Regions from separate parts of the Homo sapiens genome. Here region 1 is linked to region 2. The links come from fine-mapping of genetic effects on plasma protein levels. A gene starts in region 2. The other region holds a variant in brackets. All regions are shown on one strand. Distances are from middle to middle. Region 1 overlaps RNASET2 (ribonuclease T2). Region 2 holds the start of RNASET2 (ribonuclease T2).

Evidence for each region. PIP is the chance, under the fine-mapping model, that this variant and not a neighbour inherited with it causes the effect. Protein levels are from antibody-based Olink assays in UK Biobank. Linkage for the fine-mapping came from a reference panel and not from the study's own genotypes, which makes the PIPs less certain.
Region 1: its variant is fine-mapped to the plasma level of the RNASET2 protein (UK Biobank, PIP above 0.99). The variant lies in the coding sequence of RNASET2. If it changes the protein, the assay may bind it differently, which can mimic a change of level.

What each region holds. Positions count from the first base shown.
Region 1 is chr6:166,922,570-166,930,841 of GRCh38, forward strand. It overlaps RNASET2 (ribonuclease T2), which reads right to left. Exons shown (of 9, transcript NM_003730.6): 9 at 1-7,222. The coding sequence ends at 7,019. Among named protein-coding and RNA genes, the nearest start is that of RPS6KA2-AS1, 23 kb to the left of the region's middle. The variant C/T (reference allele first, on the strand shown) is at 7,147.
Region 2 is chr6:166,952,495-166,960,801 of GRCh38, forward strand. RNASET2 (ribonuclease T2) reads right to left here and starts at 4,056. Exons shown (of 9, transcript NM_003730.6): 1 at 3,603-4,056; 2 at 1-54. The coding sequence starts at 3,688. RefSeq lists silencers at 3,822-4,581, 4,622-4,721, 4,992-5,041, an enhancer at 6,006-6,125 and a cis regulatory region at 6,806-7,092.

The sequences.
Region 1 (8,272 bases), 30 kb before region 2:
GAGAAAAACCAATCGGGTGACATTTCAGTTTTGATTAGTGAGGTACCAAGCCCCTGAATATTGGGAGCATCTTGGTGACTGGCTGAATCTTGTACATGACTTTTGATGTATGTTGTTATCTTTGGGCCACTGCTGACTATCTTTTCTCAATTCAGGTTAAATATTTTCAAAACACCTACTATGCTCAAGTAGCTGTGTTCAGTACTGGGGCAGCACGAGCAGCCCACATCTCAGGGTGCAGTCCAAGACATATGGTCATCAAGACAGAAGAGCAGATGGTGACAGGTACCAACCACCAAAGCTGTACACGCCAGGTTCAATGTCTTTGCTGGTAAAAATGGGCCACTGTCACTCTGCAGACTTTTCTCAGTGTTAAAAGCGGGTAGGAAAAGGTGATTGTGTAATTCTTGCTCCCTCAAATAAAGGGAATGTAAATGCATAAGAATGCACAGGTCTGAAATGTGAAAAGCACGTCAGCATAAAGTCCATACAGCATTTAATGGATCTTAACTTTATCCATCTCAAACTTTCTTTTGGAGATGGAGTCTCACTCTGTTGCCCAGGCTGGAGGGTGGAGCGCAGTGGCGCAATCTCCACTCACTGCAACCTCCAGCCTCCCAGAGGGCTGGGATTACAGGCGTGAGCCACCAGGCCCGGCCTTTTTTTTTTTTTTTTTTTTTGAGACAGAGTCTTACTCTGTTGCCCAAGCTTGAGTACAGTCTCGGCTCACTGCAGCCTCCACCTCCTGGGTTCAAGCCATCCTCTCACCTCAGCCTCCTGAGTAGCTGGGATTGCAGACACCCGCCACCACACCCAGCTAATGTATTTTTAGTAGAGATAGGGTTTCGTCCTGTTGGCCAGGGTGGTCTTGAACGCTTGACCTCAAGTGATCCGCCCACCTCGGCCTCCCAAGGTGCTAGGATTACAGGTATAAGCCACTGCGCCTGGCCCATCTCAAACTTTCTAATAACTATCATCTGAGCCTAAAATGCTAATTCTGTCTTTTTTGTCTAAAATAAATGGAAGGCCCATTACAGTCACTCAGAAAAAAAAAATAGAATTCTTATCAGAAAAAAAATGACATAAAACTGCATTTCTCATCATCTGTCAGAGATTTTGCTTCAGATAAGAAAACCCTCACTACTGCCCCTTCTATGGGAAACGTAGCTCATCCCATAAGCAATGCAATGGACTTCTTTTCTATAGACGCCCAAATACTGACTTCATATCTGTGATTGTATCCTGGTAATTTCATTTCAGGAGCTAGAGCTTGTGAGGAAAAGTAGTATTTTAACTTCTGAGTCTTTTCCAGCCTTCTGCAGTGATAGATCTAGCCAATATAGTTGAATTCTGAAAATATTTTACATTACAATTCTCAGCTGCCTTAGGACCTGCATTAAATTATTTTTATTCCTGATCCAAAGTTCGCAGAAACAAAAAGTGAAAACAGGCGATCTGCATGTTTCCTCATCTGGGCGTGGTGAGAAGCCAACAGCAGGCACCTTCCACTGGGACCAGTGCTGCATTCTCTTTTTTTCTTTTTTTGAAACGGAGTCTTGCTCTGTCATCCAGACTGGAGTGCAATGGTGTGATTTCGGCTCACTGCAACCTCTGCCTCCTGGCTTCAAGTGATTCATTCTCCTGCCTCAGCCTCCCGAGTAGCTGGGACTACAGGTGCCCGCCACCATGCCCGGCCAATTTTTGTATTTTTAGTAGAGATGGAGTTTCACCATACTGTCCAGGCTGGTCTCGAACTCCTGACCTTGGGATCCGCCTGCCTTGGCCTCCCAAAGTGCTGGTATTACAGGCATGAGCCACCACGCCCGGCCTCTCTTTTCTATTTTATTCATTTATTCACTCCATCACTAGAGAACACTGGCTTAGAGCTGATGTGCCTCAGACACAGGTGCACTCATGGAGCACAGAAGCGAGTTGGACAAAGTCCGGGCCTTTGTAGTGTGACGTGGCCATTAGGGCCCACAGATCCTTCCCTGCAGTTGCTGTCTCCCTTTCTTCAGGTTCCGAGGAAGCCTTCCCTGGCCGCCTTCATAACTCTGACCTCCTCCCTCCCTCCAACCTACCAGCATCAAATGCACCAGCTATGCTCCTCTTTTCCCTTGCCGTCTGTTGCCCTGCACTTTGGGAGGCTGAGGCAGGTGGATCACCCGAGGTCGGGAGTTTGAGACCAGCGTGACCAACATGGAGAAAACCCATCTCTACTAAAAATACAAAATTAGCCGGGCATGGTGGCATATGCCACCACTCTTGGAGTGGGCCCAAGAGGAAAAGATCCCTGCTTATGGCCATGTCCCAGTGCCTAGAAGAGAGGCGGCTCATAGGAAGGGTTGAAAAAAGTGTGGAATGAATCAATAAACAGCTCTTGATTTAGTGGCAGGAGAAGTACAGGCCTCACCTCCACCGCGCAGGCCTCATCTACGCCATCCAGCCCTCACCCACAGTGTCCAGACCTCACTTCTCCCACCCAGGCCTCTACCCAGTCATCTAGGCATTCTCCCTGCCGTCTAGCCCAAAACCGGAACAGCACAGCCCTCACCTCTGCTGCCCAGGCCTCATCTACGCCATCCAGCCCTCACTCCTGCCGCCCAGCCCTCACTCCTGCCGCCCAGCCCTCACCTCTGCTGTCCAGGCATCACCCTTGCTGTCCAGCCGACACCTACGATGCGCAGTCCATGTCTCCGCTGCCCAGGCCTCATCTATGCCACTTAGCCCTCACCCATGCCATCTAGCCCTCACTCAAGCCACCCAGCTCTCACTTCCTCCATCCAGGCATCATTCCTGCCACCCAGGCCTCATCTACACTGCCTAGCCCTCACCTCCCCTGTCCAGCCCGTCCTCACCTACACTGCACAGCCCTCACCTCTGCCACCCAGGCCTCATCTATACTGCCCAGCCCTCACCTCCCCTGTCCAGCCCTCACCTCCCCGGTCCAGCCCTTGCCTCCCCCGTCCAGCCCTCACCTCCATCATGCAGCCACTGTCTCTGCTGTCCAGTCCTCACCTATGCCACATTGTCCGCATCTACACTGTACGGCCCTCCCCTGTGCCATCCAGCTGGCATCTTCTATGTAACACAACAAGAGCTGGAAGAGAAGAGGCCCTGGTCCCTGGGCGTGGAGGCGCAGAGCCACCCAGGACTGCAAAAGAACTCTTAACGGCCAACCATGGAACTGGGTGTTGATATCCCATGGAACTTGCTAAACTAGGTGAGCAGAAGAGCACTCCAGGCCACCCAAACTGCGCGGAGAATCCAGGCACAAGGAAGTGCTAAGCAGAGCCCTCATGGGCTGTGGGGAGTGGGTGGAGGCACTGCCAACAGGGCAGGAGGGATTGAGGGAATGTCCCTGAGCCGCCATACTGGGGAGGTGTGATCTGGGAGCAGAGAGCCATGGTTGGTTACGGAGAGTGGCACAAACACGGTGCCAGCGTCCAGCACTGACAGTCAGGTGGCGTGGCAGTCAATGCATGGCCCAGATGGGAGACTGAGGCTTGAACTAAGTCAGTAATGAGAAGGATAAGCTGAATATAATTCAGAATACTTTCACAATTTAGGCAAAATTTTTTTAAAAAGTTTCCAGTTCACTTTGAGGTTTCTACCTGGAATAAGCGGATGGTGATGTCATTCACCGAGATGGAGGCAAAAGTTTCGGTGGAAAGATAAGATACCTGGGCCAGGCGCGGTGGCTCACACCTATAATCCTAGCACTCTGGGAGGCTGAGGCAGGCAGATCACCTGAGGTCAGGAGTTCCAGACCAGCCTGGCCAACACAGTGAAACCCCAACTCTACTAAAAATACAAAAAATAGCCGGGCATGGTGGCGTGCCTAGTCCCAGCTACTCGGGAGGCTGAGGCAGAAGAATTGCTTGAACCCAGGAGACAGAGGTTGCAGTGAGCCGAGATCGCACCACTGCACTCCAGCCTGGGCGACAGAGTGAGACTCAGTCTCAAAAAAAAAAAAAAAGAAAAGAAAAGAAAAGATATCTAGTTCTGAATATGATACAATTGCTACTGTTAGTTATTCAAGCGCATAATGATCTCCCACTACTAGCTTGGAGAGAGGGATTGCTTTCCAGGTGACAAAGCATTGTCCCCTCCCAGGCCAAGAGAAATGCTCTTGGGTACAGCAATAGCCCTGCTGAGAAGGGGCTGGTCTGAAGGAGTTTCATGGGAACCTGGTTTTCTTGTCTCGCTTTTACCTATGGTGTCTTTTTCCACCATAAGTTCCACTCATCCCTGTGGCCTAGTCCACGGGTCCTCTTTTCCATGGTGCCGCAGAGATGCTCCAGGCAGACGCCTGCTCTGGCTGAGACCCGGGCCAGCTGCCCCTCCTGGCTGCTCTCCATCCTGAGATGCGCCTGCTCCTTTGTCCCCCTGGGAGACACTTGTACCCCCAGCTCTGATCCCAGAGCCTGGCCTGCTCCTCCTTCCACACATACGAGCCTGAGACCCCGCTCACATGGGAGGCATTTCTCAGTCACCTCCGCCCAGTTACAGCGAGAACCGTGTGGTCAGAGTTGCATCTTCCTGAGTTGAATCTGGAAAATGCACGACCTACTTGTTTAATGATGTAAAAACATGTGCTTGGATCTGATCTCCATCACTGAACCTTAAACGCAGAGTCTTCCCCTTCTGTCTCCTGCGGCTCATAAGTGCCTTATACTTACATGATCTGAGGCAGGTTATCAAACGCTCATGTTCTACCTGCTCCTGAGCTCTAGGCCAAAATAGGAATATTAAGAGAGCCAAGCATTTGCTTGTGCTCATGTTTTGAACCATCCAGCCCCTCACCAGTGCCTTCTTCCATTTAGCTGACGTGACAATGGCAGGAAACCAGCACTCCGCAGCCCATGCCTCCCACCAGGATGCTACCTTGTTGGCGTCCCCATCCGCTCTCAAATGCTCACACTCATATAATAAATACACGCTACTTAAAAAAAAGAATGGCTTCTTTAAAAACCGCAAAGGCCAGCCGACTGCAGACAGCCTCTGAAGAGCTGCTTTCCTTGACCCCCCAAGGCTATAAAATAAATGCAATTTGAATAGGAAGTCTGTTCAAATTCACCAGCTCCTCTGGGAATAATGAAGATAAAACCCAAGCCTTGATCCCTGTGTTCGCAAAATGACTCAAAAAAAAAAAAAAAAAAAAAAAGAATTGACATCATTTAAAGGACTCTGAGGCTTAAGAGTCCAACTCTAAAGTACACCCACTCCCTGAGGACGCAGAGCAAATGCAGGAAATCACGCCCTTCCAGGTGCAAAACAAATCAGATCTTGTCCCTCTCACAGGCATCAAAACACAAATCATCAGTTCCCGACAGAAACAAATCCTGCCCTGCCAAGCCAACAGAAAAACACTGGAGACAGAAATGAGCTCAGAGAAGGGCCGAGGGACAATGACAAGGTGGGGACCCTGGACCCTTGGGCTCCGCTAGCCTTCCCCACAGCTTGCAGAAGAGGGCTCAGCTCCTCCATTACAGAAGAGACAAAATACAGGGACTGCTTCCATCAAATCCCCCATCATCTCACTCTGTCTGTCTGCAGAAGCTGTCAGGCCTGGCTGGGTGCTGCCTGTCTCAGGCTCTTACTGCAGAGCTTGTTTCCAGAGGGCCAGAGGCCGTCCTGTGTCTCCTTTAATGCCTGCGGGGGACGCAGAGGCCACTGAGTCTAGGATCAGGACTGCGACACCTACTTTCTCACCGTCCCATCTGCCTGGTAAACCTTTGTCTCTCTCTGAACATTCTGCATTTCAGACTGTCTTGTAGACACCATGAAGTGAGGTTTTGGTTTGAGCCAATTTGAAAATCTCTTCTTTAAATGGGCGAGTAAAGCCGAATATTCACAGGCATTGATACAGCTGTTTTTTTTTTTTTTGTAAATTATGCTGACAATATGGTTATTCTAAGGATTAAATATTTCACGTGTTGAACACAATGCCTGGCACATAGTAAGTTCTATTTTAAATGTATATTGAATAAAACATAAATAGGACGTTAATGTGATTAAGACAAACAGAGAAAAGGATTTAAAGAGAGAAGAGGCCAGGAGACGCGGGAGAAGACAATGCTAACAGGTTGTCTTAACAACACATGGAAAGCTCCTCACTGCACAGCCCCCAGATGCCTCACTCCACGAGTGAAATCCCTGCACGGCAGGCCGAGAGCGTGGGTGCAGCAGTCTGCCTGACGTGAGAGCCATGTCATCACATATCTAGAAGGTAAGGGTACCTCCGGTTCTGGAACACACAATGTAGGCACATTTCGCTGGGGGCTCCATGTACATTTCTAAATAGATACCAGTGCAGGGACCTGGCTACCCTCTGATAAGAAGGAAGTGAGGCCTGACAGAAACTGACCTTCCAGTAACCTGGAAGAGACTGCTCTGACGGAGACAGGAGATGGCTGCTCTGTGAATACACCCAAATCTCCTAGGGCAGGAGGGGCAAAGTCACCGTTCTAGGACACACCTGTGACCACACCAGGCCTCCAACAACGGAGCAGCTGGCTAAGGAACGATGTCCTGGGGCTCTGGTCACATGGAACAGACCCAGTCTGAGCTAGAGACACCCCCCAGGCCCACCAGGCATCAGCGTGGGCTCCTGCCATGCGTGGAGCTCTTCGTCTTGACAGGGTCCCTGCGCCAAGAAGGCAACAGGCTCCGAGGGGAAAACTCGAGCAAGAGAGTCCCCTGAATCGGTGCCATCTGTCTAAATTCCAAGTATGCCTGCCTGATCTACCAGGGCACTGAAGAGTTTAATAGAGAAAAAAAAAAACAATCTGTGAGCTTTATCCCAAGCACAAAACAGCCACTCAGGCGTGGGAGAGCTCCTTTCTCCCCGTGTACGCCACATGCACTCACTCTACAGGGACCACAACATCCAATTCACAGGCATGGAGGGGAAACAGCAAAATAAACAGACTTCACTTTGGAGTTGTTTTTTAGAAAGCTGCAGTTTGTGAATTTCTCTTGCTTTTTAAAACAGAATATTTCCAAAACTTGGGCATCAATGCTTGGTCTTTTTAGGTGGGGGATAGAAGACTGGGCCATCTTCACAGACTCTCAGACCCCGGCTCTCGGCGGCCCCATTTGCCAGCCAGACTTCCTGCTTGGGGGACGGCTGCTCCCCCGGCT[C/T]GGTGCAGTTTTGCAGCTGCTGGTCTTGCTTAGTGAGGCACAGTTCTATCTGACCAATTGTCTGTACTTCCTCATCCTAAAAGTAAACAATGAAAGACGCTTTAGAATTCAGATCTTGGATTATCATCAAGGTCTTAAGATCATGAACTTTTAGAACTTTTAGAAGATAACAAAAGCAGAGGCTCCACACCACAGGTTCTAGGTTCCAAGAACGGACCCCTTCATTGAGCAGAAGGCTGCTGTGCACTAAATTGGAAGGAGTGGCCCCAGGTGACTCGCCTGTGGGCAGTGGAGCTGGGCTTGGGGGTTGGATCCCCTGGTCACCACCAGAGGCCAGCCTGGTGCCCTGGTGAAAAGCCTCTGCTTTTATGTTAGAGAAAATTAACAAAGTTACACACAGATACAACAGCACTCAACATATCTATCAAGATATTAGGAGAAGAAATGGCTTTTGTAGGCCAAAAGGGCAACAGTACCCTATTGCTAAAAGAACAGGTATATTCTTGTTAAAGATAAGCAAGAAGACAAACCCTGTCCTAGCATGCTGTCAAGAAACCATGCTTGCTCACACACAGCACATGCTCACACAGACACACATGCATGCTCACATACACAGATGTGCAGGCCTGTGCACACATGCAGAACATGCCCATATGTGCACACATACACACAGTACATGAACATGTTCATATGCACATTCACACAGAGGCACAGGCCCATGCACACACACAGCACATACCCACATGCATGTACACACACACACACACGCACATGCCCACACAGCACGTTCACATGCATGCACACATTCACACATGCACACACATGCCCACATGCATGTTCACACAGAGAACATGCACACACATGCACACACACAGCACATGCACACATGCATGTACATGCACACACAGCACATGCCCACATAATGTACACACTTGCACACACAGCACATGCGCACATGTATACTCATGCGCATACAGCACATGCACACATGCATGTACATGCACACACAGCACATGCCCACATAATGTACACACATGCACACACAGGACATGCACACACATGCACACATAGCACATGCCCACATGCATGTACACACACATGCACACATAGCACATGCCCACATGCA
Region 2 (8,307 bases):
ACTGTCTCAGGCCAGTGCTGAACCATAATTAGTTTTTTCCACTCATGGTTGTCACTGTTAAAACATAAGAAACTTATTTTTCAAGAACTTTTTTTAAAGTTACAGAAAAAATTCATCCACCCATCCATCCCTTCAATCATTCATTCAGCACTGAGTGCTGTGGGAGGAGGAACACTGCCTGCCCTGCTGCTGCACACACTCCCGTGAGGAAGGCGGTACACCCCTACACTAAGAAGGCACGTGTGGTGGCGTCCAGTGCTGAGTGGCGGAGAACATGAATAGGATAAGGGGAGGAGGGGAGAGGAGGGGAAGCGGAGGCAGGGCAAGCTAGGAGTGCAGCCAGGGAGGGCCTCACTGAAGGGAAGCCACTGAGCCACGAAGCACCTTTCTCCTAAGGATGCTCAAGAGAAATGCAGACCCACGATCCCTCCCCTGCATTCGTGAAACCCATAAAAGCCTGAAACCTGGTAGTTTTTTGTAATTCATTTGGCAACAAAACATAACCTGAACTAGCATAACGCTATTTATCGTTACTACCCCAACTCAGTTTTTAGACTTCACTTGCTTCTCTGCAGAATTTGTGTCATTTGATTTTAGGGTGCTACTTCAGATGCCACCAGGACTGTTAACTTGAACACGGTATGTGCACTGCATCATGAATGTTATTCACGACATGGTATGCACACAGCACTGCATCACACGTGTTACCCAGAACCTGGGGCCACACTGGATCACAAACCTGAACACCGTGAAACTCATCTGACTCTAAGACTTCAAAGAAGCCACTGTGGAGCGGCAGCTTATTCATGGCAGTAGGCCTCTAGCCAGAACTGCAAGACTTAACGAGACTGAAGTAAAAAGAGCAGCTTGCAAAAAATGCACATGGAAAAAGCCAGCAGCAACACAGGATATAAGTCAAGCAGACACTTCAGGATAAATCAAATTTTAGAAGGGAAGATTCCAAGTAAGAAGATCAAGTTGTCACACATTAGCTTTTGTAAATAATTGAGTCCTGTTGAATTTGTATAGAATTTACAGTTAAGATGGTATGAAAACTTAGTTGTACATTGGAACTAATTATGCAAGCTCTCAGTATAAAAGGAAAAAAGGGTTCAAGCGTGGTGGCTCACACCTATAATCCCAGCACTTTGGGAGGCAGAGGCAGGAGGATTGCTTGAGCTCAGGAGTTCAAGACCAGCCTGGGCAACATGGTGAAACCCTGTCTCTACAAAAATTAGCCAGGTGTGGTGGCATGAACCTGTAGTCCCAGCTACTTGGAAGGCGCTGAGGCAAGAGGATAGCTTAAGCCCAGGAGGTGGAAGATGCAGTGAGCCCAGATCACATCACTGCACTCCAACCTGGGCTACACAGCCAGACCCTGTCTCAAAAAAAAAAAAAAAGGATGAGCTGCAGGGTGAGAATTGGAGCTGGTAAAGCATTTTTTACCCTTGGGTGAAAAACCTTATTTTACATAGTCGGAACCTGAGGCTGGAAAGCTTAGCAACACCCAGGAAGATGAGACTATCAATATGCTTACAACAAAACTACCAAGACTCAGACGTTTGTAACAAACTCTCCATCTAAAACCAGGCAGAGTGATGTGACTGCAGGAGACCCCCTCCCACACAGATGCCCCCCTCCCCTATTCACGGAGAAAGTAATGGAGAAGCTAAAGAAAGTCAAAGAAGAAAGAAAAATCACCAAGGTCTCAAAACCAGTTAGAACTTGGGAAAATGCCCGCTGACCTATGAAGCCCTCGTGGTCTGAATCAACCATGTTCTCGCAAATCTTGCCTGCTCAAGTTTGTCCGATCATATCAGTTGCATGAATTATGGGCTGGGGTGGGGGATCCACATATGACAGCCTGTTTTATGCTAATGTTTACTTCCAGCCAGACATCATTCCAAGTTACATTCTGTACCTTAACTGATTTCTCCTGAAGCCAACTCTGTGAGGCTGACTGTTACTATTTCTACTTTACAGATGAGGAAACTGGGGCATAGAGAGCTCAAAGGTCCCACACCTGGGTGTGAACTAGCAGTTTCCACTCAGCCAGCAAGGGCCAGCATGCCACAGACTTCCCCAGTGAGAGGCTCTGAACCTCATGGCCAATAAATAAGGACATAAATGTAGCTCTTTTTCAGAAAATACACTTTCCGGAACACTGAAATATAATGCTACATTTTAATGTACATGATTAAAAATATATACCTAAGGTGTTTAAAAAGTAAAACCCTGGCCGGGTGCAGTGGCTCACGCCTGTAATCCCAGCACTTTGGGAGGCCGAGGCGGGCGGATCACCTGAGGTCAGAAGTTCGAGACCAGCCTGGCTATTAAAAATACAAAAATTAGCCAGGCGTGGTGGTGTGCATCTGTAATCCCACCTACTCAGAGGCTGAGGCAGGAGAATCGCTTGAACCCGGGAGGTGGAGGTTGCAGTGAGCTGAGGTCACGCCACTGTACTCCAGCCTGAGTGACAGAGTAAGACTGTCTAAAAAAAAATAAATAAGTAAAACCCACCTTTTCCACACCTACTATGTAAGTAAGAAATCCTATTAACCCGATCATTACCCAAATAGAAAGAAATAATATGGTATTCAAATATTGGTATCTTCCACAGAATTAAAGTTGGAGTTCTTTGCAGCACCGCCTGTTTACCCCTAATTAATTTGGGCGGCTGCCACACACACACACGCACACACGCACGCACACACGCACGCACACACGCGCACACACGCACGCACGCACACACACGCACACACGCACACACACACACGCGCACACACGACACACACGCACAGACGCGCACACACGACACACACGCACACACACGCACGCACGCACACGCACACGCACGCACACACACACGCACACACAAACGCACACGCACACACACACACGCGCACACACACACGCGCACACACACACACACGCGGAGGGCGAGCCAAGGGAAGGGATTCAGAACAGGATACTCAAAAAGAGGAAGAACCGTCGTTTCACCACCCGCCGCAGTGAAAGCTGAAATTAAGTGTCCCCTCCACGACTTCTTCGACCTCTGAGAGAACTTCGAGTGCAGGAACAGTGCTCCACCAAGCCTGCCACCTGCTTTGTCGCGTCCTAGGCTGGGAGCAGTCTGTGGGATGAGTTTCCAGTCCAGCTCCAGGCTGGAGTGTACCCAGGACCTCACCCTACCCCCTACTCCTTCCCAGGGGTCACCCCGGGGAGTGTTCAGGGCTCCCCAACCCACTTCTTCCCAGGAGTCACCCCAGAGCGTGCCCAGGGCTCCCCCCAACCCACTCCTTCCCAGAGGTCACCCCGGGGCGTGCTCAGGACTCCCCTCATCGCACTCCTTCCCAGAGGTCACTTCTGAGTGTGCTAAGGGCTCCCCCCAACCCACTCCCTCCAGGGGTCACCCCGAGGCGTGCTCAACTTCCCAACTTCTTCCCAGGGGTCACCCCGGAGCGTGCTCGGCTCCCCCCGCCCTCCCCAGTCGCTGCCCGGGGCTCAGCGACCGCCGACCCCGAGAGCTGCAGCCTTCACCCAGTGGAAAGCTCTAGGGCCCGGCTCCCACGCTCCCCACTTTACCTCGCAAGGTAACTCACCGCAGGCGCTTGTCCGCACCGCCCAGGCAAAGCAACGCCAGGCAGAGGCAGCCCAGCAGGGCCCCGCGCAGGGCTGCAGGGCGCATGGTGCCGACCTGCGGAGAGAACGCTGCCAGCTGCCGCTCCGGCTCCCACTTCCCACCTGCTGCCCGAGGAAGACTTCCGGGAGAAACGCTGTCTCCGAGCCCCCGCGCCGCCGCGCTCCCTCCGCTGCAGCAGCGGCCACCGGGTGCGCCCGGAGCCCTGGGACGGCCTAAACCAGTATCTCGCGGGCCCCGCGCCGGGCTCCGGGAATGGCCGCAGCAGCCCTGGCGACCCGGGCCCCTCGGAGCTCCCCTTCAGGATCGTGCACCAAGCGCGCACGTCCCGGGCTCTGCTTCGCGACCCACAGCGACCCCAGCTCCTCCACGCTGCAGCCGCCGTCCGCCCACGACCACGGTCAGTCGCGTTGCTCCCAGCCCAGGGCGCCCTGCGGGCCTGCACCGGAGCAGAGAGCCACGCCCCCAGGACGGCACGCCCCCGCCGGTGGACACGCCCCCCAGAACGGCACGTCCCCGCCCGGCGTTCACGCCCCGCCCCGTGGTTGGCTCAGAGAGGCCGAGGCAGGAGCAGCTCCGCGGGCCTTGAGGGCGTGTCAGGCGGCTGTGTTCCTTCGCCACGCAGGCGCCCCGCGCCTTTTCCCGCAGCTCTGCGCCACTCCCACACTCCCGGGTCCGAGCTAACCTAGACCACCCGTGAGGACCGCCCTCGGGGGGACCGCCCGTGTCTGCGCCATCCCCCGCCAGCAAGTGGGCGTGCGGGCCCCAGGGCCACTCTACTCTCCAGGGACAGCCCCCAGCCCGACCCGCGCACCCTGCAGGCCCGCGGTCCGCACGCAGCACCCGCTTTCAAAAACTGCGCCCTGCAAGCTGCCCGGGAGCTCCTGACTGCAGATGGTGCTTGGCCGCCCAGGCTCCCCGCAGCCTCCCGCCACCTCGGCGCTCCACTGCGCAGCCCGAGGGACGGCTCCAGAATTAGGAGGGGACCTACTCGGGTCACTCTCCTGGAAACCTCTCCAGTCTCCCGGTGCTAGGTGCTGGGAGCACCAACATTCCTAGAAGGGCCTGGCCCTCACCCAGCCCTGGGCCTCACCTGCCCCTCCCCGCGGGCCCCAGGAGCCCGGAAGTCATCTCTGTGGGGGCAGCAAAGAGCCGCCTCGGGGCGCGACCTGGGAAGTCATCTTGTGAGGGATCCCCTCCCAGAGGGACGGGCCACCCCCCACGGATGAAGGGGACTTCATGTCAGCCCCACCTTGGCGTAGCCAGGGCCAGTCCCATAGGCCCGGTCTCCTCCCCCAACACCCTGGCCTTCCCAGCCCTTCAGAGGCACGGGTTCCCCTGCACCCGCGGCCCCGCCCACGGGCTGTGCACCCGGCATTGTCTCTGCAGATGTTTCTCCTCTTTCCCTTCCCTGTCCGCACACCCACAGCTAGTTAAGGCTATTCCTATTTACACGTCGAGTAAACTGCGCCTTCCTCGGGGTCCTCTGCCACTGGTAACTGTCTAAATAGCAGGTGGGCCTGTAGCCTGCTCTCCCACAGGCCTGGACCTTGCCTGCATGCATTACCATTCTTTGAAACAAAATATTTAAATGATTAATCTGTTTTTCCCACTAGACTGCAAGGCAAGGCCCATGTCTATTTTGCCCACCTTGAGTCCCTGCCACTGAGCACAGTGGATGGGGGACAGTCGGTGCTCAATAAAATGCCACCTGTGGAACAGATGGGGGGGGAAAATGGCTGACACCTCCTTAGCTCCTCCAGGACCTCCTACAGGTCATGGTGTTATTCTCGTTCTCCTTTTCCCTAACGACTTATTTGTTTCTTTCCGGCTCCTTTCATTCCTTCCTCTCAAGAATATAGGCACACGCCACAGTTCTTTTTCTCTTTTCTTTTAAGCTAAAAAAATAATTTTCTTAAAACAAAAGTGCTTCCCAGAATCCTCATTTTCCTTTAAATCACAGTCCGGTGTGTTTAAACAGCCCCTTGTCAAGGAGGGCTGTTGTGACCACTGCCAAATATAAAGCAAATCTGGACTCGGGGAGGAGTGGTGTTATGAGGACCATTATTGCAGGGGCCTGGGGGCCTTTTGTCCCTACTAAAAATACAAAAATTTGCTGGGCGGGGGTGGCACGCGACTGTAATCCTGTGGCAGGAGGAGCGGCAGACAAAACCTCTCAGACACCGAGCTATAGAAGGAAGGGCTTTATTCAGCTGGGAGCATCGGCAAGCTACTGCCTTAAAATCCGAGCTCCCCGAATGCACAATTTCTGTCCCTTTTAAGGGCTCACAACATTAAAGATTTCACATGAAAGGGTCGTGATTGATTTGAGCAAGCAAGGGGTACGTGACGGGCTGCATGCACTGGTGGTCAGAGAGAAACAGAACAGGGCAGGGAGTTTCACAATGTTCTTCTATACAATGTCTGGAATCTATGAATAACATCGGTCTCTAAGTCATGAGTTGATTTTTAACTACTAGGTTTAGGCCAGGCAGGCCCAGGTCCGGTTTTGGGCCTGGCGCCGGGCTGCCTGTCTTTGATTTCACTTCCTTGTTTTTTTCTTAAAACAGGTACTGAGTATAAAACAATATAAAACAATATGAGAGGGTCTCTCTCTTCCCTCAATCCCAGCTACTCTGGAGGCTGAGGCAGGAGAATCGCTTGAACCCAGGAGGCAGAGGTTGCAGTGAGCCGAGATCGCGCCACTGCACTCCAGCCTGGGCGACAGAGTGAGACTCGGTCAACAACAACAACAAAAAGAATGAATGAAAGAAAGAAGAAAGAGAGAAAAAGAAAGAGAGAGAAAGAATGAACTGGGAATGGAGAAGTGGGATGAGAACCTGCCTTCATAGGACATTAGATCAGAGAAGGTTGACCCCGTGGCCAGCCTGTTCTCAGGGGGGACTGACTCAGGCTAAGATGAGGCCAAAAGTCCTCAGCCTCGGGGGAAGAGAGGAGCCTCACCAAGTTTGCTTAACAAGTGTGTTATTTCTATTGACTGGCTCATCATTGATGAGGTGAAGAATGGGAATTGGAGGATCTGTGTCTGGCTTTGTCCTAGGTAATGGGTAGGGGGTGGAGTGAGGGGAGCATCCGTCACTTTTCCTTTTTTTTTTTTTTTTTTTGGAGACAGCGCCCAGCTGCATCACTTCTATCACTCTTACCTATGTTATGTGGGGAAGAAGGGGGTCTCTCGCAGCAAGCCACTTTCCACAACTCACAGAGAGGAGATTTTTATCAGATAAATTCAGCAGCGTCCTACCCAGCCTGAAGAAGCCACCCAGTCATTTCCTGTTGCACTTCCTTGTTTATTTTCGACACAGTTCTCCCCACCCCTGAGAATTCTTGTCACTTCCTCCTGTACTGCCCACTTCTACTCCCCCACCCCCACATCGGAAGCTAATGAGGAGCTTCAGGCCCCTTGCTGGCATGGGCCCCACCAAGACCCCATATCTCATTCCGTATTCACAATTTTACCTTCTTGTTCTTAAAGAAGGACATCCAAATGGAAAAGCTCTCAACCCCCCAAAACTTGGATGTGAACCTGGAGCATCTGTCATCTGTCTTGTTCACTACTTGTCCACCTACCAGGATCCTAAACGGAACCCTACGTAGGGAAGAGGCAGTGGCTGTAAAGGCTGGATTTGGGTCTGGAAGCCGCCCAGCTTTACGAAAACAAAGAGGGCTCCAGCATCAAGCAGGTGGGCAGGGGCCAGAGTGGGAATTACATTGACTCACACAACATAGTGTAAAAGGGTACAAACTATGAGGTTTAAAAGATGCTGCTGGCTTGTATAGAAACATGTCCTTAGGAGAGGGGAGGGGGACAGGATGGCAACAGCCATGTCTATGAACAGACATCCTTAAATCCTTGTTAATTCTGAAGAGACCAAGATACTTTCACCACACAACCTCTTCTTGGCATTAGCTCCAGGTTTCCTGTTTCCATGCCAGCTTTTGCTGGGTTATGCTACAATAATACACCGCCCCCAAATCTCAGTGTCTCACTTAAACGGAAGTTGATCATTTATCATTCATTTGCCCATATTCCATGCTGGCTATGCGTCAGATGCCACTGTGGTCCACGGTATTTTTCACTCTGGAACCCAGGCGGTAGGAACAGCCCATATCTGGTGCTGGCCATTCCAATGGCAGAGCAGTGGCACAACTACACAGTTTAGGATTCTCATGCTCTAAAGAGCTTTGTCACACTTGAAAGAATCTCACCTTAAAAACTCCTTTCCATCCTGAATTACTTATTTGCTGAGAAAGTGAGGCCAGCTGCTGGGTGTTTCCCTGCCCTTTCTCTTCTTTTTCTTTTTCTTTTTTTTTTTTTGAGACAGAGTCTCACTCTGTCAGCCAGGCTGGAGTGCAGTCAGTGGCACAATCTCGGCTCACAGCAACCTCCGTCTCCCAGGCTCAAACAATTCTCCTGCCCTAGCCTCCCGAGTAGCTGGGATTACAGGCGTGTGCCACCACGTCCGGCTAATTTTTGTGTTTTTAGTAGAGACGGAGTTTGACCATGTTGGTCAGGGTGTCCCAGCACCTCTGGCCTTGCCATGCCAGCCTGGCCACTGTGGTACACATTTTGTGGAACTCTTTTATTCTGAGCTGTGGCCATGACAAAAGGAGGACAGGAGAGAAACAGAAAAGACCAGTCATGTGTT